2 separate regions of the Homo sapiens genome follow, and region 2 is linked to region 1. The links come from fine-mapping of genetic effects on gene expression. A gene starts in region 1. The other region holds a variant in brackets. All regions are shown on one strand. Distances are from middle to middle.

What was found.
Region 2: its variant is fine-mapped to the expression of ZKSCAN1 in whole blood (INTERVAL, PIP above 0.99).

What each region holds. Positions count from the first base shown.
Region 1 is chr7:100,006,412-100,022,575 of GRCh38, forward strand. ZKSCAN1 (zinc finger with KRAB and SCAN domains 1) reads left to right here and starts at 9,185. Exons shown (of 6, transcript NM_003439.4): 1 at 9,185-9,315. It overlaps LOC105375423 (a long non-coding RNA gene), which reads left to right. Exons shown (of 3, transcript NR_159960.1): 3 at 4,965-5,223. RefSeq lists enhancers at 792-1,292, 1,293-1,793, 3,511-4,010 and a silencer at 9,271-9,440.
Region 2 is chr7:100,155,747-100,171,910 of GRCh38, forward strand. It overlaps GAL3ST4 (galactose-3-O-sulfotransferase 4), which reads right to left and starts at 12,871. Exons shown (of 4, transcript NM_024637.5): 1 at 12,800-12,871; 2 at 11,225-11,537; 3 at 10,756-11,059; 4 at 3,498-5,213. The coding sequence starts at 11,349. The coding sequence ends at 4,182. It overlaps TRAPPC14 (trafficking protein particle complex subunit 14), which reads right to left and starts at 2,977. Exons shown (of 11, transcript NM_018275.5): 1 at 2,343-2,977; 2 at 2,097-2,192; 3 at 1,887-2,016; 4 at 1,627-1,713; 5 at 1,348-1,468; 6 at 1,099-1,246; 7 at 888-970; 8 at 640-803; 9 at 1-79. The coding sequence starts at 2,753. It overlaps GPC2 (glypican 2), which reads right to left. Exons shown (of 10, transcript NM_152742.3): 7 at 16,033-16,164; 8 at 15,793-15,932; 9 at 15,515-15,690; 10 at 13,860-14,737. The coding sequence ends at 14,484. MIR4658 (microRNA 4658) reads right to left here and starts at 923; the gene lies at 859-923. RefSeq lists silencers at 2,084-2,260, 2,292-2,441, 2,472-3,111, 15,717-15,936, 16,077-16,164 and an enhancer at 4,558-5,057. The variant G/A (reference allele first, on the strand shown) is at 6,696.

The DNA.
Region 1 (16,164 bases):
TTTAGACAGAGTTTTTGCTCTTGTTCCCCAGGCTGGAGTGCAGTGGCGCAATCTCGGCTCATTGCAACCTCCACCTCCCAGGTTCAAGTGATCCTTCTGCCTCAGCCTCCTGAGTAACTGGGATTACAGGTGCGCACCACCACACCTGGCTAATTTTTAAAATATTTTTAGTAGAGAGAGGGTTTCACCATGTTAACCAACCTGGTCTCGAACTCCTGACCTCAAGTGATCCACCCACCTTGGCCTCCCAAAGTGCTGCAATTACAGGCATGGGCCACTGCGCCCAGCCTGTATTTTATTTATTTTGAGACAGAGTCTCACTCTGTTGCCCAGGCTAAAGCGCAGTGGCACAATCTCTCCTCCTCCGGGGTTCAAGTGATTCTTGTTCCTCAGCCTCCCAAGTAGCTGAAATTACAGGCATGTGCCACCACGCGTGGCTAATTATTTTGTATTTTAGTAGAGACAGGGTTTCGCCATGTTGGCCAGGCTGGTCTCGAACTCCTGACCTCAAGCGATCCACCTGCCTCAGCCTCTCAAAATGCTGGGATCACAGGCGTTAGCCACCATGCCCTGCCCCAACCCCAATTTATTCTTTAGTGATCACGTTTCTGTAACAACTGTGTGACTGTGTTTTGCAGCTTTTAAACTAGTTTTACGCAAATGTATATAGAGGTACCTTCATACAGAGTCTCATTTACAAGTTAACTTCGCCTCCCCGTAGGATCTGTGTTCATTTCCTGCTGAAATTGCTAAATGTGGCTTGTTTGTTTTTTTCTGTCTTCATCTTCAATGTGCCTGGATTCTTCCTGCTATCATGCTTTTAACCAACCTACATTCAGGTCTTTCATTACCTTCCTGATAAAGTGCTATTTATAAGTTTTCAGTACTCTTTCTACTTTGAAGCCCTGACTTCTTTTCCCCCAACCACTTTATTCTCTCTCTACAGTCACTGGTTTTTTGTTTTTGTTTTTGTTTCGTTTGTTTGTTTTTTTTTTGAGATGGAGTCTCACTGTGTTGCCCAAGCTGGTCTTAAACTCCTGGGCTCAAGCCCTCCTCCCACCTCAGCCTCCCGAGTAGCTGGGATTACAGACGTGAACAACCACACTGGCTCTTCTCTGTCTACATTCAGCACCACCATAGATTATTTTTTGTTTTTTGGGGTTTTGTTTTGTTTTGTTTTGTTTGAGACAGAGTCTCCCTCTGTTGCCCAGGCCGGAGTACAGTGTACAGTGGCGCGATATTGGCTCACTGCAACGTCTGCCTCCTGGGCTTAACCGATTCTCATTCCTCAGCCTCCGGAGTGGCTGGGAATGCAGGCGTGCACCACCACACCCGGCTGATTTTTGTATTTTTAGTAGAAATGGGGTTTCACCATGTTGGCCAGGCTGGTCTCGAACTCCTGACCTCAAGTGATCCACCTATCTCGGCCTCCCAAAGTGCTGGAATTACAGGTGTGAGTGTGAGCCACCACACCTGGCCTACCTACTTTTAATTACGTGTAGATTAAGGGGCAGTTAGTGCAGAAATTACTAGGGAAGAGGTAGTAACTTCTAGGTTGTCAGCTCATTGCCATGGAAAGGGGTGGTAACTCCCGGGTGTTGCCATGGCAACGGTAAACTGACATGGCACTCTGGTGGGCATGTCTTATGGAAAGCTGCTTCTGCCCTGGCCCCATTTTAGCTAATCCTCAATTTGGTCCACTGTCCAAGCCCCACCTGCAGAGTCAAGTCCCTCCTCCCACCTCAGCACTGCTAGAAAAGAGCTTCAGGATGGAGCCACACATGTCACTCAAGCCCAAGGGTCAGTCAACAGCCCACAGCCCTAAATTCATCTGTGTCCAATGCCAGACCCTGCAACTGCTGATTTACATGAATCAACTCCATCATGCAAGCCTCATGACATCCCAATGAGGTAGGTGCTGTTTGAATCCTCATTTTACACTTAGAGAAACTGAGGCTCCAAAAGTTCAAGTAACTAGACCAAGAGTACATGGTACAGACAAGATGAGAACCAAGACCATCTGAGTCCTGCGCCCCTCTACTATACACCATAGCTAGGAAGGATATGGCTTGGGCTGACTTGGGAATGAGGCCACAAGGCTAGGGGCTGTTTGGTTTGTTTTGATTTGATTTGATTAGGCACCAATGTTCTCATAAACATCCGTATCCAGACGCAGGTGCTTTTGCAGTCATGTGACTGGACGTGGGCTAGGACTCTGTTGTCCGTGGCTGGAGTCCATAGCTGAGAACAAAGAAGGAAAAACTTCAGGAGGACACTCCCAGCCCACAGCACGGCACATCAAAGATCCCAGATGCCACCTACGTGACAGGCAGAAACGCTCGCGAGCTTTGCTTGCTCAGCCAGTTTTTCTGCTCCTCAAGTCTGGACGAAAGCAGCAAGAAAGAGAGAAAGGACTTGGTAGAAGCCAAAGAGAAAGGACTTTGCCTTCTGCCTATTGGTGGGGGCTTCCCTCTCCTCCTCCATGACTGGTTCCCTTGCCCCCTCACCATGAAGACAAGTGAGAATGTCTTCAAAACCTGGGGACAGAGGCTGGGTGCGGTGTCTCTCACCTGTGATCCCAGCACTTTGGGAGGCTGAGGTGGGCAGATCACTTGAGGCCAGGAGTTCAAGACCAGCCTGGCCAACATGGAGAAGTCTCATATCTACTGAAAATACAAAAAATTAGCTGGGCGTAGTGGCATGCACCTGTAACCCCAGCTACTGGGGAGGCTGAGGCAGGAGAATCACTTGAACCGGGAAGCAGAGGTTGGAGTGAGCTGAGATTGCACCACTGCACTCTGCACTCCAGCCTGCACAACAGAGGGAGACTCCATCTCAAAAAAAAAAAAAAAAAGAGCAGGGGGCAGGGCGGGCAGGAATCCCAGTCACCAGGGAGACTCCATATCTACAAAAAACCTCATCCTCGGCCAGGCACAGTGGCTCACACCTGTAATCCCAGCACTTTGGGAGGCCGAGGCAGGCAGATCACAAGGTCAGGAGATCAAGACCATCCTGGCCAACATGGTGAAACCCCATCTCTACTAAAAATACAAAAATTAGCTAGGTGTGGAAGCACAGGCCTGTAGTCCCAGCTACTCAGGAGGCTGAGGCAGGAGAATCACTTGAACCCAGGAGGCGGAAATTGCAGTGAGCCGAGATCACGCCACTGCACTCCAGCCTGGCGACAGGGCAAGACTCAAAAACAAAAACAAAAACAAAAAAACCCTCAACCTCTAGTTGAGCATTATTTTAAATAGGAGACTCTCGTGCCTAGGCAGGTGGCGGGTGATTCAACAAAGCCACTAAGAGGGGAAGGTGGCCAGGGAGGGGCAGGAGCACCACAGGAGGTCCACGTTCCATTCACTAAGAGGGGAAGGTGGCCAGGGAGGGGCAGGAGCACCGCAGGAGGTCCACGTTCCAGCCATTTGAGTGGCCAAGGGTGCCTGAGTTTGTCACAGATCAAATGGACCCAGGAGCAGGTAGCTGGACTTGAGTTGTCCAACTGGTGCCCCCACCCAAGAATCTCCTCAAAAGGAGGTTGTGCAGTGCCCTGCTAGGGGCAGAAGGCAGATCGACTGGGACAGGGGACTGAGTAGTAAGCAGGCCCCCAAGGCCCCCTGAGGATTTCATCCCTGAACACCACAAGCCAACGTTTGTGTGGCTGACGCACAGTAGCGGTAGACTGTGTTTTCCAAAAGTGACCTTGGCAGCGTTTTTGGTCCCACATGCAATTCCAGAACCACATCACTTCCCATCAAAAGGTGGCATCTGGCTGGGTGCCATGGCTCACGCCTGTAATCCCAGCCCTTTAGGAGGCCAAGGTGGGCAGATCACCTGAGGTCAGGAGTTCAAGACCAGCCTGGCCAACATGGCCGTCTCTACTAAAAATACAAAAATTAGCCGGGCACAGTGGCAGGCACCTGTAATCCCAGCTACTCAGGAGGCTGAGGCAGGAGGATTGCTTGAACCCGGGAGGTGGAGGTTGCAGTGAGCCAAGATCGCGTTACTGCGCTCTAGCCTGGGCGACAAAAGTGAGACTTAGTCTCAAAAAAAAAAAAAAAGGTGGCATCGCCAGGCATGGTGCCTGTAAAACCAGCACTTTGGGAGGCCAAGGCAGGAGTATCCCTTTAGCCCAGGAGTTTAAGACCAGCTTAGGCAACATAGTGAGACCCCATCTCTAACAAAAAATAAAATAAAATTAGCTGGGTGTGGTGGCGTGCACCTGTACTCCCAGCTACTCAAGAGGCTGAGGTGGAAGGATTGCTTGAACCCAGGAGTTTGAGACCAGCCTGGGCAACATAGTGAAACCCCCATCTCTACAAAAAAAATTTAAACATTAGCCGGGCATAGTTGCTCATGCCTGTAGTCCCAGCTACACGGGAAGATGAGGGTGGAGGATCACTTGAGCCCAGGAGGTCGAGGCTGCAGCGAGTCATGATTGTACTCCAGCCTGGGTGACAAGAGTGAGACCCCGTGTCATAAAAAAAAGAAGAAAAGAGGGGGGAACATATTTTCCCTTCCCCTGAAACTAGGTGTGACTTTATGACTGCCTCAAGGCATTGAATGCAGTGAAAGGGATGCTGAGTGCTTCTAAGATTAGGTTATAAAGGACATGTGGCCTTCATTCACCTGTCCCCTCTGTCTCTCTGTCACCCACTCCACTTCCTTCCTTCCCGTACCTCCTTCCTTCCCTCCCTTCCATTCCCTTCCCTTTCCTTTCCTTCCTTCCTTCACTCCCTCCCTCCCTCCCTTTCTTTCCTTCTTTCCCTCCCTCCCCTTTCCTTCTTTCCCTCCCTCCCTCCCTGCCTTCCTTCCTTCCTTTCCTCCCTCCCTCCCTACCTGCCTGCCCGCTCACCTGCTCTTCCTTCCTTCCTTCCTTCCTTCCTTCCCTTCCCTTCCCTTTCCTTCCTTCCTTCCTTCCTTCCTCCTCTCTCTCTCTCTGGATACTTGTCCTTGGACCCCAGCCACCATCCTGTGAGGAAGCCCAGAGCACATGAAGAGACCACCTGCACATGTTCAGATCCACTGCCCCAGCTAAGATCTCCGCTGACAGCCAGACCAATCACCAATCTTAGGAGCTGGCGAGCCTTCAGATGGTCCAACCTTTGAGGCCCCCCAGAGGAGCCAGGTGGAGCATAGATGAGCCATCCATGTGGATCCCTCCACCAAATGGAAGATTTAGGAGCAAAATAAACAATGTTGTCATTGCTTTCACCCACGAAATTGTTGAATAATTTGTTTTGCTGCTTAAGTAGCTGGAACACTGTGTTACCGAGGGAAGAGCAACAACCAACAGGAGAGAATAGTCAGTTAAGTAAGAGATTTTTGACCCTCTCCCTATCCGTCCACTTTGCTCAACACAACAGAGAAGCCACAGCTTCCAATAGGAAAATAGAGAGGGAAGGTGTCTCCAACAGTCAGATCACTCACTCCTGCCACCCCAGGGAGAGGGAAGGGGAGGAGGAAAAGCATAGATGAAAGTACCCTTCCCACAGCAGGTTCCCCAGCCACAGCCCTAGCCGACAGTAAAGAAAACTCAGGCTGGGCACGGTGGCTCACGCCTATAATCCCAACACTTTGGGAGGCCGAGGTGGGCGGATCGCTGGAGGTCAGGAGTTCGACACCAGCCTGGCCAACATGGCAAAATCCCATCTCTACTACAAATACAAAAACTAGTCAGGCAGGTGGCACACGCCTTTAATCCCAGCTACGTGGGAGGCTGAGGCAGGAGAATCGCTTGAACCTGGGAGGCGGAGGTTGCAGTGATCCCAGCCTCGGTGACAAAAGCAAAAACTCCGTCAAGAAGAAAGAAGAAGACTCAGTAAAATGGGACCTTTGGAATCAGATATAAGACTTGGGTTTGTTTTTTTTGTTTTGTTTTGTTTTTTTTAAGACAGAGTTTCGCTCTTATTGCCCAGGCTGGAGTGCAATGGTTCAATCTCGGCTCACCGCAACCTCTGCCTCCTGGGTTCAAGCGATTCTCCTACCTCAGCCTACTGAGTAGCTGGGATTACAGGCATGCACCACCATGCCCAGCTAATTTTGTATTTTTAGTAGAGGCGGGGTTTCTCCGTGTTGGTCAGGCTGGTCCCGAGCTCCTGACCTCAGGTGATCTGCCCGCCTTGGCAGCAGCACCCCATCTGGAGTGGCCACTGCCATGATGCTGGCTGCAGTGAGTGAGGCATAGCTGGGATCGCAGCACTCCACAGAGCTGGAGGGAGCTGGGAACACATGGAAGCCCCCACTCCTTCCAAGTTGGAGGGACAGGAGACCCTCCCTCCCAGGAGTAGCTGCAGCCACCCAGTCACAGCCGCAAACCCGGGCTCCCCTTCAGCATTGACTCCACCAGCTTTCACAACACAGAAGTCAAACTTAGGCAACCACAGTTTCTAGGGTGCCCTTCAGGAACTTTTATTTGTTCAGGGCAGCCAGCCAATTTTTAAGCACAATGTCTCTTTGTAATCATAAATCATTAGTTTCATGATTCTTTCAACACTTTCATCTTAGAGTCCTTTCAAAACTCTTGGGTGGATACCACCTGATCTTGTCAGCTGAGCTTGTTTGCTGACAGGTCTAGAACCCTGGGGTTACAAACGTTATTGCCTATATTCCCTCTGACTATCTGTGGGACCAGTAATCTCATTTCTTGGAATCCATCCTTAGGAAGTAATCAAAGATGTCGAGGCCAGGCGCGGTGGCTCACACTTGTAATCCCAGCACTTTGAGAGGCTGAGGTGGGTGGATCACTTGAGGCCAGGAGTTCGAGACCAGCATGGCCAACATGGTAAAACCCCATCTCTACTAAAAATACACAAATTAGCCAGGCATGGTGAGTGCACACCTGTAATCCTAGCTACTTGGGAGGCTGAGGCATGAGAATCACTTGAGCCCAGGAGGCGGAGGTTGCAGTGAGCTGAGATCACGCCATTGCACTCCAACATGGCAACTGAGGGAAACTCTCTCAAAAAAAAAGAAAGAAAAGAGGCCAGGTGCAGTGACTCACACCTGTAATCCTAGCACTTTGGGAGGCCGAGGCTGGTGGATCACTTCCTGCCTCTGCCACCCCTGAGACAGCAAGAGCAACCCTTCCTCTTCCTCCTCAGCTTACTCAGTGTGAAGACGATGAGTATGAAGACCTTGATGATGATCTATTTCCACTTACTGAATAGTAAATATATTTTCTCTTCCTTAAAAAACAGTGTTCACATGATATGAATGTAGCAGATACTTCCAGGATACCAGCCTCCTCTTCAATACAACTGCAACTATGGTTTTGAACAGTGTTTAAAATAATATCAATAAATATTTATTTGTATATGAAAACAGGAAAAAGGTAAACTAAAGCCATGGGGATTGTGTTAGGGTGGAGAGATTACCGGTAATTATTTTTCTCCATTTTGCAAATTTCCTTTAATGATACTGTTGTTGCTTCTTTTTTGGATACAGAGTCTAGCTCTGTCCCCAGGCTGGAGAGCAGTGGCACGATCTCGGCTCACTGCAGCCTCCGCCTCTGGAGTTCAAGCGATTCTCCTGCCTCAGCCTCCCAAGTAGCTGGGACTATAGGCGTGTGCCACCACGCCCAGCTAATTTTTGTATTTTTAGTAGAGACGGGGTTTCACCATATGGGCCAGGATGATCTCAATCTCTTGACTTCGTGATCCACCCACCTTGGCCTCCCAAACTGCTGGGATTACAGGCATGAGCCACCGTGCCCGGCCCTTTTTTTCTTTTTTGAGATGGGATCTTGCTCTGTGGCCCAGACTGGGGTGCAATGGCACAATCATAGCTCACTGCAGCCTCAACCTCCTGGGCTCAATCTATCCTTCTACCTCAGCCTCCCAAGCAGCTGGGACCACTGGCACACACTACCCTGCACCCAGCTAATTTTAGTATTTTTTGTAGAGAGAGGGTCTCATTACGTTGCTTAGGCTGGTCTCCAACTCTTGGGCTCAAGAATCCTCCCGTCCCAGCCTCCCGAAGTGCTAAGATTACAGGCTTGAGTCATCGTGTCTGGCCCTGTCATTGCTTTTTAGTTTTCAAACATTTTTTAAAAAGTAAATCTGGCCGGGCACGGTGGCTCACGCCTGTAATTCCAGCACTTTGGGAGGCTGAGGCGGGTGGATCACAAGGTCAGTAGATCGAGACCATCCTGGCCAATATGGTGAAACCCTGTTCTCTACCAAAAATACAAAAATTAACCAGGCATGGTGGTGTGCGCCTGTAGTCCCAGGTACTCAGGAGGCTAAGGCAGGAGAATCGCTTGAACCTGGGAGGTGGAGGTTGCAGTGAGCCAAGATGGTGCCACTGCACTGCAGGCTGGGTGACAGAGCGAGACTCCATCTAAAAAAAAAAAGTAAATCTCTCCAAGCAGTAAGAGTCATGCAACCAAGCTACTGAGTTTCTCCCATGAACTTGTCTCGGAACATAGTGGAAAGTCACAACCATTAAAGCCTGTAGTCCCCCCCACCCTTGCACAACGTGGCCCCCTCTTATGCGTGCCTTACCCTGCAAGGCAAAGATGAAGGCTGTAACTGTGGTAGGTTGTGAAAGCACTTTGAAGGTAAAAGTGTCTGTTGTTACTCTGAAAACTCCTTTTAAACGGCTATAATAGCATATGCCACATGAGCAAAGCACAGAACCTTATAACTATGCTTGCTTGTGGAAAGACATCCCTTGTCCACGGGCCAAGTATTTGAAAATACCACTCCATATAGCTCCAGGGCCCTGAGAGAAGCTACCGTGGCAGCTTTGGGAAACCAGCCACCCTTGGCTTCACTTTGATCTTCCTCAGTCTACATCCTTGTTTCAGTTCCTTTGCCACAGACATACAATTACCAAGTACTATATTGCTTGATAATAACTATAATTACTACAAGGACTGCCTGAGATGAAAAAGACAGGTGAAATCGAACTTTCACATGGACTGGTGTCTGAGCTGGAGAGTCTGTTTGAGTTTGAGTAGGGGAAAGCCTGAAACCCCCCACCACCTGCTCCCGTTAGTCCCTGCATTAACTAGGGGCGGACTGGGACCTGATCCTCCAAGCTGGAGGCTTGAAAACTCAAGGGCAGGCGCCTGGTCCAGCGATTCGGAAACCGAGATGCAAAGTCCTCCCGCGCTCCTAGAGAGGACCCGGAAGCGCGGCGCGGTCCCGGAAGACGAGGTGGTGACACGCTTCCGGCCTTTGTGACTCATTGTGTCTGTGTCGAGGCGTCGGGAGGGCCTAAGTCCGTGTGCGGTGCCCTTCGGCCGGCCTGAGCCCCAGAGTCAGCTCCCCTTTCTCGCCCAGCGCCCCCAGGCCGCTCCCGGGGCTCACGGTGAGACTTGGGGCCGGCCTCTGGGGTGGGAGGGCGGGGCCGCAAGGGTGTGTGCGCGAGGGTGGGCTCCGCAGCTGCGGCCCTGGGACCCCCTCCAGGCGGCCCCGCTGTTGTGCGAAGAGAGTCCATGCCCCTGCCTCCTGGCCGGGCCCGGCCGTAGAAAGCGCCGTTCTTCCTGGGAGACGTCCCCGCCCCACCCCCAGGATCAGGCGGGGAGGGGGCGAGGGTTTCAGTGGCTGAGGGTGCCCGGAGACCCGGGGAGAAGCCGTCTGTGGGCCCCTCTCCCGCAGTGTCGTCATCGCCCTTTGACGTTTCTGCAAACGGGGTCGCGAGCGAACCGACCCCGGTCTTGATTTTTCTGCTCTCCCTTAGTCGCCATTTGCTTTGATTCCGGTGAGGTGTCTTTTTCCCCCCCCGGTTCCTTCGGGACCTCGAGGTGAAATGAGCGGAAGGATGAGAGATGGACACATTTTGAGGTGCCGCATACGTTTCCAGACCTGCCTTTCCTTCTCCCACCCTCATCACTGAGCGGTGATTAAAGAGTATTTGAAGCCTAGTCATAGTGGATAAATAGGTGATTGGGATCTAGTAGAGATTATATACACCCCACTCTTTCAGCTTGATGGAATGCTTTGAAGGCTTTGGAAAAGAGCTGTCCGGGACGTTAGGTGGATTTTTCAATTCTGGATAGTTGCTCTGTTTGACATGGAGTGGGGTGAGAAGTGAAGGGAATTTGTGGAAATTGCACTGTGTCACTAGGAGACTGATTAGCTGAGTGACCTTGGATAAGACGAGACACTCACCAAGTCTTAATTTCGTCATCAATAAAAACTAACTGGATTTTCTCAAAAGGCCCTTCCGACTTCGAAATGATTTGGTCAATGTAATTGAAGAATTAACTACAGTTTAGCTTGACACTCCTCCATCCCTCCCCTCCCTTTCCTGCAGTGCCCCCTGTACACAGTAAGATACTTTCATTATAGAGAGTGGCTGTTCCATGGCCTGGGACCAAAGAAAGCATTTATTGTACGGGCCAGTGCTAGGCGGATTGGAGGCGGTCAATAAATACTTGTTGAATTGAATTGTGGAGAATTCATTGTAACCACATCAGCAAAGCACTGTTAGTATATATGCTGAACAAATGTGGAGAAATCGCTGTTTTACATAGGAAACCATGGTGATTTGCCCCAGAATGTGTATCCAGGTTTGTATCTTCTCTGAATTAACATATAAGATTCTTGTTTATTATTTCAGGCAGTTTTCACCACTCTTAAAATACAAACGAGGAAGCTAGCTACTTAGTCTTTTGCTCATTCTCGATTTAAAAGCATTTAAAATACAGATGAATAGCATATTAAATCTAACATTTTCATTCTGTGGGAGTATCAATATTCTTTGAATAGCTAGCTGTCTTTTAAGGTAGCTTTTTCATATTAAAACATTTGATTGCTCTTTAAAAAAATGAGTGTAAAGGGCAAAGGGCAATTTATTTAAAAAAAAATTTTTTTTTTTTTGAGACAGAGTCTTGCTCTGTCGCCCAGGCTGGAGTGCAGTGGTGCGATCTCGGCTTACTGCAACCTCTGCCTCCCGAGTTCAAGCGATCCTCCTGCCTCCGCCTCCCGAATAGCTGGGACTACAGGCATGTGTCCCAAGGCTTGGCTGATTTTTGTATTTTTAGTAGAGACAGAGTTTCGCCATGTTGGCCAGGCTGGTCTCGAACGCCTGATCTCAGGCAGTCCGCCAACCTCAGCCTCCCAAAGTGCTGGGATTACGGGCGTGAGCCACTGTGTGCCCAGCCTTTGTTTACATTTTCAAGACTATGCCCTGGAAAAATACTGGGCTGTTTGGAACACAGCCTTTGAGCTTGTAACTTCAAGCCGTTGTTTAAGAAAATCATTTCTGTTTATCCTAGGTGAGAACTGAGGTATCCTTAGCTGCTGGAGGTAATTTTATTTAAAGTGGATGGTATGTCAGTATGTTTTTCAGCCCATATTCACCCAGAGGTAGTTTCCTACTATCTGGAACCCCCACCCTACCCCCATTTGACTGATAAAGATACAAAATGCCAGAGAAGTTAAATACCTCTCTCAGGGATGTGCCACTTACTTGTGGGAGACTAGAATTCAGTTATTGCCTGTGCAGCTTTCACTATTACAGGAGTTGTCCCATTGCTTAATCTTCTAAGCAGGCTGAAAATTGGAATGTACAGTTACATCTTTTAAGCTTATTGAAAAAAATTAAGACATTTCTGTAGTGCCTACTAAATGCCAGGCACTATTTTAAGTGCTTTATATCTATTACCTCATTTAATCCTCACGGCAACTCTATGGGACAAATGCTGATTTTTATTCCCATTATACAGATGAGGAAACTGACGCATAGAGAGGTTAACTTGTTGACTTGCCTAAGGCCGTCAACTAGTAAGGGGTGGAGCAGCTTTAATGCTAACCTGAAACTCATCCAACTAGTCCATGGAACAAATTTGAGTGCAACATTGAATGTAGAATGATCGGGCTTTTAAAAAATAGTAACGTTGTCAATTCAGTCAAGTGTATTTTTGAAACTGAGGCTTGCAAGGAATCATGCTAAGTGGTCTAAGGAGTACAAAGAGGACTGCTCTTAATAATCTAGTTGAGGAAGAAGGCAAGAAAAATTACAGAGAAAGAAACATCATGAGAAATTTTTTTTTTTTTTTTGAGACAGAGTCTCGCTCTGTCACCCAGGCTGGAGTGCAGTGGCGCAATCGCAGCCTCCCGGGTTCACGCCATTCTCCTGCCTCAGCCTCCCAAGTAGCTGGGACTACAGGCGCCCGCCACCACACCCAGCTAATTTTTTATATTTTTAGTAGAGACGGGGTTTCATCGTGTTACCAGGATGGTCTCGATCTCCTCACCTCGTGATCCGCCCACCTCAGCCTCCCAAAGTGCTAGGATTACAGGCATGAGCCACTGCGCCCGGCGCATCATGAGAAATTACCTAGCAAATGTTTGGTGAAGAGTATTAGGGCCTTTAGAGACAGAAGAGTATGTGCTCAGATCATCTGGGAAACCTCAAATAAAACCCAGCCTTTCCACTGCTGTGATGGCTTTTCCCTGCACCCCAGAGTAGGAGCAGAGAGATACTGAAGGTGAGGAGGAGGATCTGTCCCAGTTGTGGGCAGAGGGAATGTGCCCATGTCTGTGTCTATTTCCCCCTGGACTCATTTCCTCCTTAGAGTCGCATCTTCGCACTGACCCAAGAAGTGTCCTGCTCAATAGCTAAGGCAGGATAAAACTTTCACAAAAGTAGGGATTTCTGGTGGCTGGGCTCGCTATCACACTAGTTCTGCTCAGTTACCATGTTTGAAGATCCCACCTGGTTATGTTGTAGACAGTCCCCACTTGAATCTTCTGCTGTGTCTCCTCCCTTTCCCAGGAAGGGCTTCAGTCACATAGTGACCCTCCAGTGAAAACTGGGTGGTAGATAAGGCCCGTTCCTGAGTGATTTTTTTTTCTCTTTGAGAAGGAGTCTCTCTCTGTCACCCAGGCTGGAGTGCAGTGGCGCGTTCTCAGCTCACTGCACCCTCCACCTCCCAGGTTCAAGTGATTCTCCTGCCTCAGCCTCCCGAGTAGCTGAGATTACAGGTATGTGCCACACATCCAGCTAATTTTTGTATTTTTAGTAGAGACGGGGTTTCGTCATGTTGGCCAGGCTGGTCCCGAGCTCCTCAGCTCAGGTGATCGACCCTCCTTGGCATCCCAAAGTGCTGGGATTACAGGCGTGAGCTACCGTGCCTGGCCCTGATTGATTCTTCATTGTCACGTTCATAGGCCTTCATTTTAGGATCTGTATACCCCACATGTCAGGTACAAGATAAATTTTGTATAATGGTTAAAGAGTTTACATTGGGGAATCACTTTTATTTCAAATTCTGCCTCTACCATATACTTGCTGTGTGACCTTGAGTAAGTTATTTAATGGCAGTATATCTCAGTTCTTCTTTTGTTTTTTTTTGAGATGGAGTCTCACTCTGTTGCCCAGACTGGAGTGCAGTGGTGTAATCTCAGCTCACTGCAGCCTCCGCCTCCCAGGTTGAAGCAACTCTCCTGCCTCAGCCTCCCGAGTAGCTGGGACTACAGGCATTGCACCACCACACCTGGCTAATTTTTGTATTTTTAGTAGAGATGGGGTTTTGCCATGTTATCCAGGCTGGTCTCGAACTCCTGACCTCAGGTTATCTATCTGCCTTGGCCTCCCAAAGTGCTGGGATGACAGGCATGAGCCGCTGCGCTCAGCCTCTCAGTTCTTTATACAGTGAGATGATAAGTGTAGCTACCTGCTAAGATTGTTATGTGGTCAAGTGAAAATGCTTAAATACCCGGTACCTAGAAAGCACTCAGTAAACATTGGCTCTTACTGTTATAGTTATGAGAGGGTTCTTGAACAGTGATAAGAGGCAAGTCGCGTTTTAGCTAGCTTTAAAGGTTAAGTAGGATTTGAAAAGGCAGAGAGGACTGCGGGGGGAAGTCCCAGGCATGGAGTGTGATGTGAGGAAAGGATGGCAGTCAAAATACAAGGCATATATAGGAAATACTGATGAGAGGGCTTTTGTTGCATAGGGAAGGTTTATGGGGGGATTGATGGGAAAAGAAGCTTGAGGGAAAATTGGGACCAGGCACTGGAAAGTATTAACTGCAAGGCTGTAGAGTTTTAGAAAGAATAATCTGAAAGGTGGATTGTGGGAGAGAAGGGAGAAAATGAAGGCAGGGAACCAAAGAAAGGAAGCTGGACTTCATGGAACTAGATTAAAAAAAATAAGTATGGCCTGTAATCCCAGCTACTCAGGAGGCTGAGGCAGGAGAATTACTTGAACCCGAGAGGCGGATGTTGCAGTGAGCTGAGATCATGCCATTGCACTCCAGCCTGGGCGATAGAGCAAGACTCCGTTTCAATATATATGTATATATAATTTTTGTGCTGTTATATGTACATGATCCCTTTTTCACCAAAATTAAGAATATGTTTAGTGAGAGCCATAAAACTAAAAATGCTTTTGCTAGTTTAAAACTCGGTTTAACCCATCATGATAAAGCAGTTTAATGGTCTGTTTCTAAAACTTCAATTTGATGCTTAGTTTTGATGGCTGTAGAGGTGAAAAGAATAAATTCAGAAAGATTTGTAGCTTCAGATGGAAGAATCACAGTGTCAGTTCTGCTTAGTAACTTGTGATTGATCCAACCTATCAACCATGCTGAATTTTTGTTGTTGAAATGCAGGGTATAGTCTTACAAACTAATCAGGTGGTGGCATTTTATATTTTTAACAAATAGGCTTAAGACCCACCTGAAATTCTTCATTTGAAAGATTTTTAAACAGGTTAGAAAATATTTCCAAGTTTCTTTTTTTTTTCCTTTTTTTTTTTTTTTTTTTTTTGAGATGGAGTCTCACTTTGTTACCCAGGCTGGAGTGCAATGGCGTGATCTCAGTTCACTGCAACCTCAGCCTCCTGGGTTCAAGCGATTCTCCTGCCTCAGTCTCCCAAATAGCTGGGATTACAGGCGCCTGCTACCATGCCCAGCTAATTTTTTGTATTTTTAGTAGAGACGGGGTTTCACGATGATGGCCAAGCTGGTCTTGAACTCCTGACCGCAGGTGGCCCCCTGCTCCCTGCCTCAGCCTCCCAAAGTGCTGGTATTACAGGCATGAGCCACCTCACCCAGCCCCAAGTTTCTAAAATGTGAACATAGATGGGTTTTTCCTGGATACTTGACATCATTTTTGGCAGTTAAATTACATAACAATGGAACCATTTCATACAGCTGTTCCTGTAATTGCCCTTTCTTCACACTTTCTTTAAAGAAGCTGATTACTCATTGGTGACTTTTTCTTTGATTTAGACTGACATTGGTTTTTACCTCCTAATGTGGCTAAAACCTTACTCTAGATAGAAGCTTCATCTGTGCCATTTTCTTCTTGTTCACATCTGTTTATATTATTAGTGTGTCCTGTAATTGCAGTTTCTCTATAAGAATCTTTTTTTTTTTTTTTTTCCTTTTCCTGATAGGGCTTTGCTCTGTCACCCAGGCTGGAATGCAGTGGCGTGATCGTAGCTGACTGCAGCCTCAAACTTCTGGTTTCATGCAATCCTCCCACCTTAGCCTCCTGAGTAGCTGTGACTGCAGACACAGTCCCCATGCCCAGCTAATTTTTTTCTTTTTCATAGGGACAGGGTCTTGCTATGTTGCCCAGGCTGGTCTCAAACTTCTGGCTTCAAGCATCCTCCTGCCTCATCCTCCCAAAGGGCTGGAATTATAGGCATGAGCTACCATATCTGGCCACAAGAATCTTTAAAGCTGCTTGTCTCTTTTATGACAGAGTCTCGCTCTGTGGCCAGGATGGAGTGCAGTGGCGCGATCTCGGCTCACTGCAACCTCCGCCTCCTGGGTTCAAGTGATTCTCCTTCCTCAGCCTCCCAAGTAGCTGGGACTACAGGTGCCCGCCACCGCGCCCAGCTAATTTTTCTATTTTTAGTAGAGACAGGGTTTCACCATGTTGACCAGGATGGTCCCGATCTCCTGACCTCGTGATCCGCACGCCTTGGCCTCCCAAAGTTTTGGGATTATAGGCATGAGCCACTGCGCCCAGCCAAAGCTAGATTTAGAAATCCATTATTTCACATAACTGGTCTCAGATAAACCAGTCTACATCACAATGTCTAAAATGAACAACACCTGTGACAGGTCAGCACAGACTAAGTAAGTGTATTAGTGTCAATTTATAGCTTAATTTCTCTCTCTTTTAAGATACAGACATTCCAATTATTTTCTTTCTGTATCCTTTGCGGATCATCTTGTACTTTGGAAACCACAA
Region 2 (16,164 bases), 150 kb after region 1:
TTGTTGAGGGGCGTGTGGCAGACGACGGAGTCCAGGGCAGCCTGCATGGCCCGGCGCTCCTCCTCACACAGCTGCTTTCCTGGGGGCAGAAACAGGGACCAGCAAACACTACAGCGTTCCTCATTCCCACAGGGCCTTCGCCAGCACAGTCTCATCTGATTCTCAAAGCCACTCTGTGGAGTAAACTGAGCAAACGTTATCTTTTGTGCATGTTGTAGATAACAACAGCTAATACGTACTGTGTGCAAGGCACGTCACGTATATTAACTCAGTATCTGCATGACAGCCCCATCAGATATGAGTTGCTCTATTTTAAAGGTGAGGACTCTGAGGCCCAGAGAGGTTAAGTAACTTATTCAAGGTCACACAGCTAGTAAAGGAGAGAAGTAGAGTTCACACCAGCGAGTGCAGCTCCAGTGTCTATGCCCTGAAAGTCACTCTGCCCCACTGCCTCTCTAAACTCTCCATCTAGGACACTGGGGAGACCACCCAGGTACAGGGCGGAAGCCACCTGCCACAAGTCGCCTCCTGTGATGGGGCTGGCACCAAATTTGGCTGTTTTCACTGTCCTGCCTCCCTGACTTTTTCCTTTCTCTTCCCCTCCCTGGGGACCAAATTCCTACCTGGCAGCTGACCTACCAGCCTGTGCATGCTCTGGGGTCCACACGAGCCTCACAGCAAGGAAGTCTTGGAGATTGTTAAGCAGCGTGTAGGTGACAGTGAAACGCTCGTAGGTCCGAACAGGGGACTTACAAGAAGCGGTCATCACAAAACACGGGCGGTCCAAGCGGACACTGGGCAGGCTAGGAGTGGTGAGAGAGGGATGCTGGCTGTGTGTGTCAGGCCACAAAGGCGAACGCCACGATTCCTCCAGGATCCACACTCACCGGTAGTGGGTGTAGATGCTCTGAGTGAAGGGCAGCTTTGGGGTAGACCACTGAACCACAGCAATCAGGGGAACTTCCAGGCCCTGCAGGAGGGACAAAGGGGGTTGGCACAGGTATTAAGAGTGCCCCTCCCATCTTGAGTCAGCTGCCTGGTCTTTCCCTCCCACTGCCTTATCACTTTTCTTTGAACACACCAGCCCCTTATGCTCACCTCCTTGGCCCCTGGAGGGGGCTGCTCACCCCCTCTCAGCTGAAACAGGAAGTTGTGTTCCTCCAGGGCATTCAGCGGGCAGGGGAAGCAGCCAGAGGTCCCGGGTAGGCGGCAGAAGGAGCCCATGGAGACTTCCCCAGACTGGTGACTAGCTCAGAAAAGAGGACAAGGCATGGTCTCCCCATGCCAGAGCTCAGCCCCTGAAGCCATCCCCACCACTTCACAGCCTCGCCCCTCCCAGGACCTCACCAGACATTGTCCACCAGCAGCACAGAGCCATCGGGCATGACAGGTAGATAACTGGCGTTGAAGTTGGGGAGGATTCGGATATCCCAGATGGAGATTTCCTCCTGAGAGGAGCTGTTCAGCACTGTGGGAGAGGACCAGCTTGGCTCAGAATAGCTGGACCCCTCAGGCCCCACCTTTACCCAGAAAAAACCGGACCTACCCCACCAGCCTGCCCAGAGGAACTGCATCCAATCAGTTCCCTTGTTGCTCCCGGAGGCTGGAGCCGGCAGCCCTGCTTACCCTTGAGCACGGTCAAGTGTTTTCCAGCCACAGTGAACTGCCGGCATCTCAGAACCGGAGGGGGCAGCAGAGTCAGCAGCGTGCTCACTGCGGGAGGGGGTGGGGGCAAGAAGTGATGGTCTGGAGGCTGACCTCACCTCCAACCCAGAATTCTCACCTTCCTCTTCTCAGAGCCCATTAGCCACTTTCCAGTGTGACCCCTCCCCTCTGTCCCCCAATTCCCAGACTCTAGCCCTTTGCCTCTGCGCTGCCCTGCCCACCTTGGGCCTTGAAAGCGCTCTGCTCGCCCCGGAATGTCTCCCCAGGAGATCGGGTCTGCAGCAATCGCAGGTAGCCTTGATCTCTGACCTCTGGTGCCTCAATCTCCCGCTTCCACACAGTCACTACAATCTGTCAAGAGGAAAGACAGATGGCTGAGCCCGGAAAAGGTGTCTGAATTAGGACAATAGCTCCACTCTTGCTCATCTTACCTTGGCCTTAGGTGTCCCTGGGGGCAGTCTATCCAGTGAAACGGTGAGTGGGAAGATGACCTCATCTGTGGACACAATCGGTTCCTCCACAGGCAGCTGGGGTTGGGAAAGGGGTGAAGAGGTCAGGAGCAAGTCAGAGGCAGCCTGCAGCCTTTCCCTTTAAGACCGGCAGTTCATCTGCCTCCTGCCTCAGGCCCCCAGCAAACCGCCCCTCCGTCCTGTGCCAGGTCCCCCAAAGCTCCTCACCGTGGTCGCTCCCCCTGAGGTAGCAGGGCCCGGGCCGTGGGTGAGAAGGGGGCTGCAGCCTCGGAACAAACCCCCACCCCCAGGATCCCCTCCCCCTGGGGGCTCCGAATCCTGGTCGCCGGCGCCGCCGCCCCCCGGCATCCCGCCTCCGGCGCTGACCGAGGCCAGGGCGGCCAGGGCGGTTGCCAGTTCTGCCCAGGCTCCTCTGGAGCCCAAGCCCGGGCCGCCCCCGGTGCCGGACCCCGCACCGCCCCGGCAGCGCAACACCAGCAGAAAACGGACAGTCTCCCCCAAGTACAGATGGTTGCGCCGGGGCAGCGCCCGGTACCGGCCCGGATCCCCTGCCAGCTCCGCGCGCGGCGGCAGCGGCACGGCCGGGAAGTACATCGAGTAGTCGCACTGGGACTCCATGGGGCGGCGAGGACGGCGCGACTGGGAGCCCGGACCGGAGGCCGACCGCCGGCGGGGCCCGCTAGGGTGGGTCCAGAGGGTCCCGACACCTCCGGCTGCTGCGCCCGGCTGGGGCGGCCGGAGAGACCGGCCCGGTCCCGGCACCGGGGCAACGAACCCGAACCGAGACCCGGCAGCGCCGGAACCGGGGTACTGAGCCGAATGACTGGAGAGAAACAGGAAGCGGAAGGGAGGGGGCGTGGCCGCCGAGGCCCCGGAATCTGCGGGTGCCCGGACCGTGGAGGAGGGGGCGGGGTCCCGCTGCTCTGAGGCTGCGAGAATGCAGGCGGGGGCTGCGGCCAGGCTTCTTGGAAAAGAAATGGAAGACCTCGTCGGCCAGGCGGGTTGGCTCACGCCAGTAATCCCAGCACTGTGGGAGGCCGAGGCGGCAGGATCGCTTGAGGCCAGGAGTTCAAGACCACCCTGGCCAACATAGCAAGAACTCCTCTCTGCAAAAAATTTAAAAATTATCCGGGCGCGGTGGCGCGCGCCTGTATTCCCAGCTACTTAGAAGGCCTAGGCAGGAGGATCCTTTGAGCCCAGGAGTTTGAGGCTGAAGTGAGCTATGATTGGGACACTGGACTGCAGCCTAGGTGACAGAGTGAGATCTTGTCTCGGAAAAAAAAAAAAAAACAACCCTTCCAACCCCACTTCTCCCAGGAAGATTCTCCATCCCTCCCCTTTCCACCCTCCATAAATCAAGTAGAAGTTTCAAATTATTTATTCATTCAACAAACATGTCAGAGAGAAATGAACAGTCTAGTAGCAAATATTTCATAGAGAAATGGACGTATCATTCCAACTCACCACGCCCCAAACTTCCTGTGGCTCACTCCATCTTTTGCCCCTCTAGGGAGCTTCGGTGATGTGGATCTGCCTTGGGGCAGGAAAGGGGAAGGGGAGGTCAGGCCTAGTGGCTCACGCCTGTAATGGCAGCACTTTGGGAGGCAGAGTCATGTGGATCACCTGAGGTGAGGAGTTCAAGACCAGCCTAACCAACATGTTGAATCCCTGTCTCTAAAAATATAAAAATTAGCCGGGTATGGTGGCACGTATCTGTAATCCTAGCTACTCTGGAGGCTGAGGCAGGAGAATCGCTTGAACCTGGGAGGCAGAGGTTGCAGTGAGCCGAGATCATGCCACTGCACTCCAGCCTGGGGGACAGAGCAAGACTCCGTTTCAAAAAAAAAAAAAGTTGGGGGGAAAGAACAAAATGAGTGGAGGGTGGAGGAGGGAAGCACTGCTGGGAGCCCAGCGAAGAGGGGGCTTGCATCGGGACAAAGACTCATCCCTTCTGGGAGATGCAGAAATGGCATCTTGCTGCCCCCCACTCATCACATGTGCCCTTCAAACATGGCTGCTCTTCCACCTAAATCTGTAGTCTGATGTTTATGGGGAGAGTGGCCTTGAAGTCTTGAGGGGCAGTGAGACGGTAGGGGGGAACTGCTTGGCATCCAGCTTGTCCTTGTACTGGAGCTCAGGGGTAGCTAGGCGCTCACATTCCTCTTGGTCTTGGGGGCTCAATCCACTCCGAAGTATATAGCCCAAAACCTTAGCTGACCCAAACTGGAAGGGGCGGAACCGGCGATCAGTGATGTATTTGGGGTCAGAAGCCTCACCCCCTACCAGACAATGTTTCGCTAGGGCCTCTCGGCGAGCCCGGAGCTCGGCCACAGCTGTCTGCAGCCGGCCCTGGCCGTATTTCTCTATCCGTGCCCAGAGACTGCGGTTGAAGTGGACATAGAGAGCCCAGTCCAGGTTGTTCCAGGCTCGGGCCCGTGCAGTCAGCTGCCGGTCCTCCGCAGTCAGTCCACTGTTGCTGACAGTGCTGAGGCCCTGCTTATGTCCAGCCTGGGCATTGTGCATGAAGCCCACCACGTCATCTAGACCCCAGCACAGGGCATCTGCCAGCAGAACCAATGACTCATCGAAGTACTCAGCCACCATGACCAGGTCAAAGACAGAGTCCAGCCATGCCAGACCCCACTGGATGAAGGATGAAGACCCCAAATCGAAAGAGGCAGGGCTTGATATCTGGCTGCGATGATCAGTAACAGTGGAAACAGGATGGATGAGGGCATTGGGATTGAGGGTTTGGGCTCGAGGGCCAGCACCAGAAGGCAAGACCTGCAGCTGTGGGGGGTTGGGGTCTCTGGGGGGATGAATATTCCCTCTCTTGGCCCTCTTCTCTGGGGGAAAGGGCAGGCCAAAGTCAAACCATAGTAAGTTGCGAGCGTAGTGGTCCCCACGGGCCCCAGGCCTGTAGAAGCCTCGAGGATTGGCCAGGAAGGCAGCCAAAGATGGTGACTTGCGGAAGGCTGATGAGGTGGATTTATAGTAGGAGAAGGCAGAGCGAGCCAGAGCCGCTGGGTCTCGGACAATGGAAAAAAAGAAGCTGTCAGAAGGCATGACCTGAAGTACCTGCAGAGGAGGGAAGACAGAAGAGAGAGAACTGGGCTGGGGAGAAGGTATGCATAAGTATGCACAAGCCATGTGTCCGCTGACCAGCCTCCTGAAACCTCCTCCTCCCAGCTCTGCTAGGAATCCCCAGCTTCCATCACTTGCTGAGTGGCAAGTTACTTAACATCTCTGAGACTCAATTTGCTTATCTGCAAATGGGGATAATCATACTTTCTCAAGTGACTATGAAAGATACATGAGATAAAACATACAAGAAATCTGGAGCATGGAGCCAGGCATGTTTTGTGTGCCTGTAGTCCCAGCTACTCAGGAGGCTGAGGCAGTAGGATGGCTTGAGCATTGCTATGTTGCCGAGGCCAGCCTGGGCAACATAGCGAGACCCTGTCTCTACAAAAATAAAACTAAAAAGCCGGGCATGGTGGCTCAAGCCTGTAATCCCAGCACTTTGGGAGGCCGAGGCGGGCGGATTACTTGAGGTCAGGAGTTCGAGACCAGCCTGGCCAACATGGTGAAACCCCGTCTCTACTAAAAATACAAAAAAATTAGCCAGGTGTGATGGCACACGCCTGTAATCCCAGCTACTCGGGAGGCTGAGGCAGGAGAATTGCTTGAGCCCAGGAGGCGGAGGTTGCAGTGAGCTGAGATCGTGCCACTGCACTTGACAGCCTGGCCAACAGAGCAAGACTCTGTCTCAAAAAAAAAAAAAAAAAAACTAAAAAAGTTAGCAGGTCAATCAATGATAGACTGGATAAATAAAATGTGGCACATATACACCATGGAATACTATGCAGCCATAGAAAAGAATGAGATAATGTCCTTTGCAGGTGCATGGATGAAGCTGGAAGCCATCATCATGCTCAGCAAACTAACCTACTCCAGTAAACTAACAAAACTAACACAGGAACAGAAAACCAAACACCATGTGTTCTCACTCATAAGTAAGTGGGAGTTGAACAGTGAGAACACATGGACACAGGGAGGGGAGCATCACACACTGGGGCCTGTCGGGGTGGGGAGCAAGGGGAGGGAGAGCATTAGGATGAATACCTAATGCCTGCAGGGCTTAAAACCTAGATGATGTGTTGATCAGTGCATCAAACCACCAGGGCACATGTGTACCTATGTAACAAACCTGCATGTTCTGCACATGTATCCCAGAACTTAAAATAAAAATAAATTAGCGCGGTATCCTGGTACACACCTGTAGTCCCAGCTACTCAAGAGGCTGAGGTGGTAGGATTGCTTAAGCCCAGGAGTTCAAGACAAGCCTGAGCAACACAGCAAGACCCTGCCTTGAAAGAAAGGGGCCGGGTGCAGTGACTCACACCTGTAATCCCAGCACTTTGGGAGGCTGAGGCGGGTGGATCACAAGGTCAGGAGTTCAAGACCAGCCTGGCCAAGATGGTGAAACCACATCTCTACTAAAACTATAAAAATTAGCCAGGCGTGGTGGCAGGCGCCTGTAATCCCAGCTACTCAGGA[G/A]GCTGAGGCAGGAGAATCGCTTGAAGCTGGGTGGCAGAGGTTGCAGTGAGCCGAGATCGCGCCACTGCACTCCAGCCTGGGCAGCAAAGTGAGACTCTGTCTCAAAAAAAAAAAAAAAAGAAAGAAGCAGCCAGAGAGGGAAGGAGGGAAGGGAAGAGGAGGGGAGGGGAGGGGAGGGGAGGGGGGAGAGGGGAGGGAGAGGGGGAAGAGGAGAGGCTTGTCGGGGTCAGGGGCAAAGGAAGAGAGAGAGAGCATGAGGATGAATGCCTAATGCATGCAAGGCTTAAAACCTAGATGACAGGTTGACAGGTGCAGCAAACCACCGTGGCACATGTATACCTGTGTAACAAACCTGCATATTCTGCACATGTATCCCAGAACTTAAAAATTAGCCGGGCACTAATTTTAAAGGGGAGGGGAGGGGAGGAAAAGGAAGGGAAAAAAAAGAAAAAGAAAAAAAAAGAAAGAAGGGAGGGACGGAAACCTGGAGGATAGGAAACTCCTGGAGAACATTAATTTCCTCGGGCATTTCTGTCTGCCTTGGTCAGTAAAACCTCTAGGAACCAACCTTTGTACTCATTTCTCCAGCAAAAACCTGTTGAGTGCCTGGGAGGGGGCATCACTGGCAACAAAGGAGCAACTATAATGCCATCTCGGGCATAGGCAGCAGGTGGGCAGGCCAGGCCCAGAATGGCTGAGGGGTAAAGCACTTCAGGGTCTCCTGGGCATCCTAGAGGGCAAAAAACACCCTGGGCTGGGACACTGGGAAGCCACGGCTGCCTGGTAGGATGCTGCCCTGAGGGCTGGGACACGTGATTACACCGCTCTGCAAGAATGAAGGTGGAGATCAGGCTGCACCACACCCTAACGTGGCCCTGCAGGCTGATGCAGGTCAGAACCTAGCTCCTAGTCTCCTTGAAGGGTTTCTGCCTCCAAAAATGACTTCCATCATTGAATCTGACTTCTGTCTGTCATGGTGTTCCTCAATCGGCTCTGCAAGTATGGCACACCTGAATAGCAGCCTGTGAACTCTCTTTTTTTTTTTTTTTTTTGAGGGGGAGGACAGGAAATGAGCATTTTAGCTTTTCAGTGTTTATTTTCTTCTTACTATTTTTTAAGAGACAGTGTCTCCTTGCTCTGTCACTTAGGCAGCATATCATAGCTCACTGCAGCCTTGAAAACTCCTGGGCTCAAGGGATTCCCCAATCTCAGCCTCCTGAATAGCTGGGACTACAGGCACACACCAACATTCCCTGTTAATTTTTAATTTTTTTGTAGTGATGGGGTCTTGCTATGTTGCCCAGATTGGCGTTGAACTCCTGGGCTCAAGTAATCCTCTCACCTCAGCATCCAAAACACTCGGATCACAGGCATGAGCCACCATGCCTGGCCCTGCAGGTCTCTTTGAAGGCAGAGGGGAAAGCGAAGAAAACAGTCTTTGGCATCTGGACCTGGAATAAAATCCCACTCTGCCATTTACTAATTCTGTGACTTTGGGCGGGTTATTGAAGGTCTCAGAGCCATCATTCCTCCATCTAGAAATCTGAGTAACTGGGTAACACTTACCTGGAAGAATGTGCAAGTGTCTGGAACATGGTAGGTATTCAGTGAATGGTGGCGTCAGTGAAGGCCATCATCCTAGCCTCTGGAGAAACCTACCTCAAAGGTCACTGTCATTGCCTCACTCCTGGCAGTGGCCTTTCGCTGCCCATCAGAGCACGCCCATGTCCTCAGCTGGTGTCTCCAGCTCCAGCTTCAACAAGGGTGACTTTGCAGCCCCTGTGGAACTTCTACCCCCAGTACAGACGTTCTCCCTCTTACATGCACACACACACGTGCACCCCACCATGTCCTTGCTGGTGTTTTGCTCCCTCTAAGAATGCCTCATGCTGTCCTTACCACAAGCCACATCCACCTTTTCCTTTAAAACCCCCCGCTCTCGGCTGGGCACGGTGGCTGACACCTGGAATCCCAGCATTTTGGGAGGCTGAGGTGGGCGGATCACTTGAGGTCAGGAGTTTGAGACCAGCCTGGTCAACATGGCGAAACCCTGTCTCTACTAAAAGTACAAAAATTAGCTAGGCGTGGTGGCGGGTGCCTGTAGTCCCAGCTACTTGGGAGGCATGAGAATTGCTTGAACCCGGGAGGCAGAGGTTGCAGTGAGCTGAGATCGTGCCACTGCACTCCAGCCCAGGGGAAAGAGCAAGACTCTGTCTCAAAATAAATAAAATAAAAATCAAAATTAAATAATAAAGTAAAATAAACCCCCCTCTCCAGAAAGCATCACCTCTTTGGTGAATATTCTTCTCACCATTCCAGATACAAACACATGCACAAGCCTCGGAAGAAGCCTCGACTTTGGAGTGCATGGACCTGGGCTCAACTTCCAGCTCTGCCACTTTAATTTTCAATTTTATTTATTTATCTTTCTTTCCTTTTTTTTTTTTTTTTGAGACAGAGTCTCACTGTGTCACCCAGGCTGGAGTGCAGTGGCACGATCTCAGCTCACTGCAAGCTCCGCCTCCCAGGTTCATGCCATTTTCCTGCCTCAGCCTCCTGAGTAGCTGGGACTACGGGCACCCACCACCATGCCCGGCTAATTTTTTGTATTTTTAGTAGAAACGGGGTTTCACTGTGTTAGCCAGGATGGTCTCGATCTCCTGACCTTGTGATCCACCCGCCTTGGCCTCCCAAAGTGCTGGGATTACAGGCGTGAGCCACTGCGCCCGGCCTTTTTTTTCTTTTGTGAAATGGAGTCTCGCTCTGTTGCCCAGGCTGGAGTGCAGTGGCACAATCTCGGCTCACTGCAACCTCTGCCTCCTGGGTTCAAGCAATTCTCCTGCCTCAGCCTCCCGAGTAGCTGGGATTACAGGCGTGTGCCACCACGCCTGGCTAATTTTTGTATTTTTAGTAGAGACAGGGTTTCACCATGTTGGCCAGGCTGGTCTCGAACTTCTGACCTCAGGTGATCTGCCCACCTTGGTCTCCCAAAGTGCTGGGCTTAGTCCCGGGCTAAAAATACAGCTGATCCTCAAAATGTGAGGGGGTTGAAGAAGACAAGTCAGAAGGCAGTGGGGGAGGTGGGGCCCTGGTGTGACAGTGAAAGGGAGGCTAAGAAAGGGAAGGGGCGTGTTGTCCTAGGTACTTGCCAGGCTGAGGTGGGAGGATCATTTGAGGCCAGCCTGGGCAACATAGTGAGACTCCATCTCTACAAAAAATAAAATAAAAAAATAGCCAGGTGTGGTGGCATGCACCTGTAGTCCCAGCTAGTTGGGAGGCTGAGGTGAGAGGATCGCTTGAGCCCAGGAGTTTGAGGTTACAGTGAGCTATAATTGTACCACTGCATTCCAGCCTGGATGACAGAATGAGACCCTGTCTCACACACACACACACACACACACACACACACACACACACAGGCTGGGCAAGCTCACTCCTGTAATCCCAACCCTTTGGGAGGTCAAGGTGAGCAGATCACTTGAGCCCAGGACTATTTATTTATTTATTTAAGCCCAGGGGTTTGAGATCAGCCTGGGCAACATAGCAAGACCCCATCTCTACAAAAAATTAAAAAGTAGCCACGTGTAGTGGCACATGCCTTAGCCATAGCTACTCAGGAGGCTGAGGTGGGAGGATCACTTGAGCCTGGGAAGTCAAGGCTGCAGTGAGCTATGATTGTGCCACTGCACTCCAGCCTGGGCGACAGAGTAAGACCCTGTCTTCCAAAAAATAATTTAAAAACAGAAGAGTAAGGGGCACCTGGAGGGAGAGTTGGGGGCTCAGAGTTGGCAAGGCACTGATGCCAGGGAAATACATTGGTGAAAGAGAGAGACTGGAGTAAGCGCCAGAGAGAGAAGGGAGGAGGACTTGGGCTCCCAGAAACTACTGGGGAAGGGACACCTGTAGAGAGGATGGCAGGGAGCCCAACTTTGTGGCCCCTATGTCCAACTTTAGGGTGAGATGATGCCTGGGGAGCCCCCAGGTCTGGGCCCCCTCCCTTGGTGGTGTCAGCCTGAGCCCATCTGTTTCTGGTCCCTCCCACCACTGCGACACTCCTTACCTCTTTCAGGTTGAACCTCATGTGGTGACAGAGGATGTGGAAGGGGAGCTGGGTGCCTCCACCCTGTGGGCGGTAGCCTTTTACCCTAGAGGCCTGGAAGAGCTTTGGGTAGCCAAACTGGTAGCGGGCAGGGAGGGCGAAGCGCAGCCCGTGCTGGTCCCCATAGCGGTGAAGCAGGCTCAGCACAGAGCTGCTCCCGGATTTATGTGTCTTCAGGAACACCAGTCGCTGCCGGGGTGGGCAGGACGGAAGGGCTGGTCGTAGGGATGGGGCCGAGGGCTGTCGGAGCTGTAGCCCAGGTAGCCTGGGAAGAGATGGAGGGGGAGTGTCCTGTTCCTCAGCAGCAAATGGGTAGAAGGGACAGAGGGCATGGAGGCTTCTGAGTCCTCAGGAGTCACCAGCCCCAGGTGGGATGGGGAAGAGCAAGTACGGGGCGTCTAGAAGGAGTTGGGGCAAAGTGGGAACTCACCTCCTCTGGAAGGGCCCTCCCAAGAGCTGGAGTGCAAAGCCAATGGTCATGAAGACTCCCAGAGCCACCCCCAGGCTCCGAGGTCCCCAGAGCCGCAGCGTCCTGGCAGGAGAGAGAGGGCCCATGTGGCACAGGGAAGGGTGAGGTGACAGAGAGATGGAGCCAGGGCCAGGAAGAGGGGCAGAGACAGCTGGAGACAGCCGTGCAGCTGCGGAAGGCACTGGTTGGAGATCGGGGGGTCATTCCCCAGGCCTGCTCACAGTCTTGGTTGAGTCTGCCCCCTGAGTTAGCAGATTTTTGCCTCTGTCAGCGTCTAGAAGGGAAATGAGGGGGGAAGAAGGGAAGTCTAAGGAGAGAGGCAGAGGCAGCCTTCTCTCCTGCTGCAGCTGAGACCTCCTTCAGGGAAGGGGAGTGGCTGGGGATGTTGTCTATACCCAGACTCTCCTAGGTGGCCCCACAACTACTGTCTCTGCTCTATCACTTTCTTATCTCCAGTTCCTCCCGCTCCCCACCTACAGTTGTCCCTGAGCCTTGGGGATTTATAAGGGAAGGAGAGAAAAAGCCCCAGCTCGTGAATGAAACAGCCAGCAAGAGAGAGAGAGATCAGATCAATCAGCTCATTAACACAGTCAGGTCAGACCATGGTCGGGAACCTGGTTTCCTCCAGAGCCCCTCTGGCTGTCACAGATGGGGATAAAGAGCCCTATCCCAGGACCAGGAAGGGAAGCCATACAGTGGGAATGAGGATCAGACAGGACACAGGTGTATGAACCCAGGCAGGAGGAAGGGAGGTTGGACTTCCAGGAGTGGCATTGCAATGGGTAAGAGCCATTGGGTTATAAATTCCCGCGCCTCTTTTTTCTCTGTCTCAGCACGGGGCAGACCCCCATGTATGACAGGGGCTGGGGGAGACGTGTGGCTACTTATAAAGCCCAGATCCCTGGACTTACCCACCATTCCACTTTCCAACCTTATCAGTGCACCCGGAGGAGACTGAAAGGGTGGGGCTGGAGAGGGAGACAGAAAGAGAGAGAGACACACACACACACACACACACACACAGAGAAACAGAGAGAGAGAGACAGAGGGACAGAGAGACTATGACACAAAGATAAGGAGAAAGGCGCAAACACTAACTGCAGAGTTCCTTCTGAAGCCCGAGCTTCCTAATCAACCGGGAGTCCAGCCCCGCCCCTTCAGATTACAACTCGCGATCAGGGACCACGGCCCCTCCAACAAGCCCCGACAGCTCCCTGCTCCGATGAGCCAGGGGTAACCCCAAGCAGAGAGAAGCCACACTTTTACTCCCGGAGACCTGCCCTCTCTGGCATCACTCCCCAATTCCCTCCCTGATCACAGCCCCTGGGGTCTAGCCGCGTCTCCCCTATCCAGAGTTCTTCATTTCCTTCCATCCATCTCTCCCTTCCCATGATTGGAGATCCCAGCCCTCTGTCCCCTCCAGCTTTGGTGACTGCCCAGTTGCCCCCGCTGGGGTTCCATGAACCCCTCATGTCTCCTCCCATAAATTAGAGGGTCCCTCCACTGGTCCTATCCTTGGTTTCACTTCCCACTCACCAGGCCACAAGGGGAGCAGCAAGGGAAATCGGGCCGGGCCCTCCCGCCCATCCCAGCCACCGCCCGACTCTTGGCTCAGCTCAACTTTCCCCAAGAACTTTCTCAGCGCCCAGGCTCCTCCCTCCTCCCTTTGTGCCGCCAGCCCCAGCAGCTGCTGCAGCTTTGATCGCGGTTCTAGGTCTCTCCCTCGCTGCATCTTCCCCTCTTCGGCAGGGCACCCAGACTCCTCTTGGAAGACACCACTTCCGCCCCCGCTTTCACACTTGGGAATCAATCCTACCATTTTCTCTTGGCTTGCCGCAGAACAAAAGATTCATTCAGGCGGTGGAAAGAAAGAAGGAAGGAAGGAGAAAGTGATATTTGAAAGCAGACATTGTCAAGGACGTGGCAAGGTAGCCAGAGACTGACACTCAGAGAACAAGGCCTCCCATCCTGAAGGCAGGGGGCAGTGGTGTGGTCACCTTAATAATGCTTCGTGGCCGGGTGCGGTGGCTCACGCCTGTAATCCCAGCACTTTGGGAGGCTAAGGCTGGTGGATCGCTTGAGGTCAGGAGTTTGCGATCAGCCTGGCCAACATGGTGAAACCCCGTCTCTACTAAAAATACAAAAATTAGCTGACTGTGGTGGCAGGCGCCTGTAATCCCAGCTACTCAGGAGGCTGAGGCAGGAGAATCATTTGAACTGGGGAGGCGGAGGTTGCAGTGAACTGAGATCGCGCCATTGCACTCCAGCCTCGCGACAACAGCGAGACTCTATCTCAAAAAAAAAAAAAAAAAAGCCTCATGTTCAAAGAGCATTTTGCAGGTGACAAGGTGCTTTTTCACACAGATTCTATTTGGTCCCCACAATTCTCCCTGTTGTACAAACGAAGATGCTCAGAGGCCCAGAGGGTGGGCAATTTGGAGATCAGAGGTTATTGTCTAGGCCCGCCTCCTGGGGGACAGGTGCCAAGGGAAGTGAAAAGCCGGCAGAAAATGAGCCAGTCACAGAGGCTCTGAGACCTCTGCTAGGAGCCAGGGCTCAGGCACTGATGGTGACAGCACAGAAGCCACACATGGGGTCCAATACATTACCATTTATTTGCAGAATAAACATGGACTCAAACACTGAAACATGGAGTTTGTGAAGGATGTGGGTGGCAGAGGTCACGAGATGAGCACCCCCCCACCTTGTTTTTTTTAAAATTTGGTTTAAGAAATTGATACTGAAAAAACTCAACAGAACCCAGGCCCATGAAGTCTCACATCCTACTCAAGCACCCTCAGTCCCCTGCCCTGCATCCAGCTGGTCCATTTCTGAGACCAGATGCCCCCACCCCTCCCCACTTCCAACTTCCTTCAAACCCCTTCCCCAGCTGCAACTCTAAACTCCTCATTTTCTCTGTTGGGGCTGATCACCAGCCCCAGCCTTAGAGGGCTAGAGACTATACCTTCTAAGGAAACCACACTCCCTCCTAAATAAATACCCCCAGGCCCCCCTCCCATTACCAAATGAAAAAATAAATATTGTGAACACCCACCCACCTCTGATGAAAATCTCCTGGATTTGGGGCCCCAGCCATTCACCTGCAAAGTCCCTTCTCTACCCTCTCTGCAGCCCCCTTCGACTCCTCCCCAGGCCCAGCTGAGGGGGGAGGAGGGGAAAGGGCCATGAACCCTTCTGATGCTAGGGCACCCCTCCCCCGTTATCGAGGTCCAAGCAGGGCCAGGGCTGAGAGGGAGAGAATGAGGATGGTTTGGGTGTGAAAACCAATAGATGCCCCCCCACTCCTGCTCCGGCCCTGGTTGTAGCGGGCACTGCCACCTCCTCCTTTGCCCCCAGAACCATCCCTTCTAGGAGGGTATGGAGGCCGAGGAGGCCGGGCTGGGGGAGCCACAGCCCCAGCCATCCAGTCATCTGCATACTGCTGTCCCCCTCCAGAGCCGCTGGCATCCTCATCTGCAAGGAAGAAGAGGGACAGAGCAGGATGGGAGGGAGAAGCAGAGGGAGACAGAGGGAGGAAAAGAAATTGAGATAAAAACAGAAAGAGAGAGGAAAGGGAGGGAGACACAGGTGGATGCCGGGTTGGGGAAGGGAGAAAGACCATGAGTGACAGGAAGGCAGGGAGAGAAGGAAGGAGAGAGATCCGACAGCAGACATGGGGGGAGAGATCATGATGGGAGACAGTGAGACAGAGAGAAAAAAAAACAAAACAGGCAGATGGGGAGAGAGGATAACAGGAAAAAACAGAAAAATCAGAAGTACACAGAAGCAGAAAGCAGCCAGGAAGAGGGGTGCGGGAAGAGTGACAAAGAGAGACAGAGACAGACAGATAGAAGGAGAGAAGAAAACAATGAGTGTCTGTGCCTTGCTTCTCTGTTTGGCAAACTCCACCCTGCGGAGCCAGCTCAATGTCACCCACCACCCTGGCTTCCCAGCCTCCCCCAAATTGCCCCCTCCCCCATTTTCCCACTGCCCTTTGCCCATTATAAGGGGCTTCCCACTGTTCTTTAAGAATGTTTTCGTGTCTCCCCTACTGGCCTGAAAGGATACAGACCCCCTCATTGATCTGTTACCCCCAGTCTTTCAGGGCAACGCTCAATAAATGCTCGTTGAATGAATTAGTGAATTAATCAATGAACGCTAAGAGCAGAGGCACGGGCGGGAACTACCAGGAGAGGGGAGAGGCTTCAGGGCAGTGGGCGGGGCTCAGGCTCAGGGATGCAGGGGTCTCACCCGCGTCCTGCCCGTCCAGGTCGTGTCCCAGTGCGGCCGTTTTCATTCTGGCCGTGGCCGCCCGGAGCTGTAGCCGACGCCGCCGTGTCGGGACATCGGGGCCCGAGGCGTCCACCTTGAGCTCGGGGTTGTTGACCTGCTCGGCCGGGGAGCCCCCGACCACTGGCGGCAAGTACCTGCGAGCAGAGCAGCCCCGAAGCGCCAGCTAGCGCGCGCGGCCCCGCCCCTCCCGGCCGCGGTCCCGCCCCCTGCTGCCCCCCGACGCCCCCGAGGCTCACCGGCCCCGCCCGGCTCCGGTCCAGCAGGGCGCCGCCTCCAGCGAGGCGTCCGCTGCCATGCGAGAGTCTCCGCACACCGTCAGGGACAGCCGGGCCCAGAAGCCCCGCATCCGGGCCAGACGCTCGCGGAGCTCCCACACCTGGGCGGGCGAGAGGGGGCGGGGCGAGCTGGAGCGCGACCCCCACAACCATCCCCGGCCCCGGGCCCCCCCGCCCCCAACTCTTGGTCATCCCACGCACCAGCCGGTGCAGGTTGGTGCCTGCGGCCGTCGTGGGCCGCTCCTCCTCGGTCACCATCGACCACAGCCGGCCCGCCTCTTCCCGGGGCGGCGGGGCTCGACGGTTGCGGGCAGGCACCGGGTCGGGGGGGCC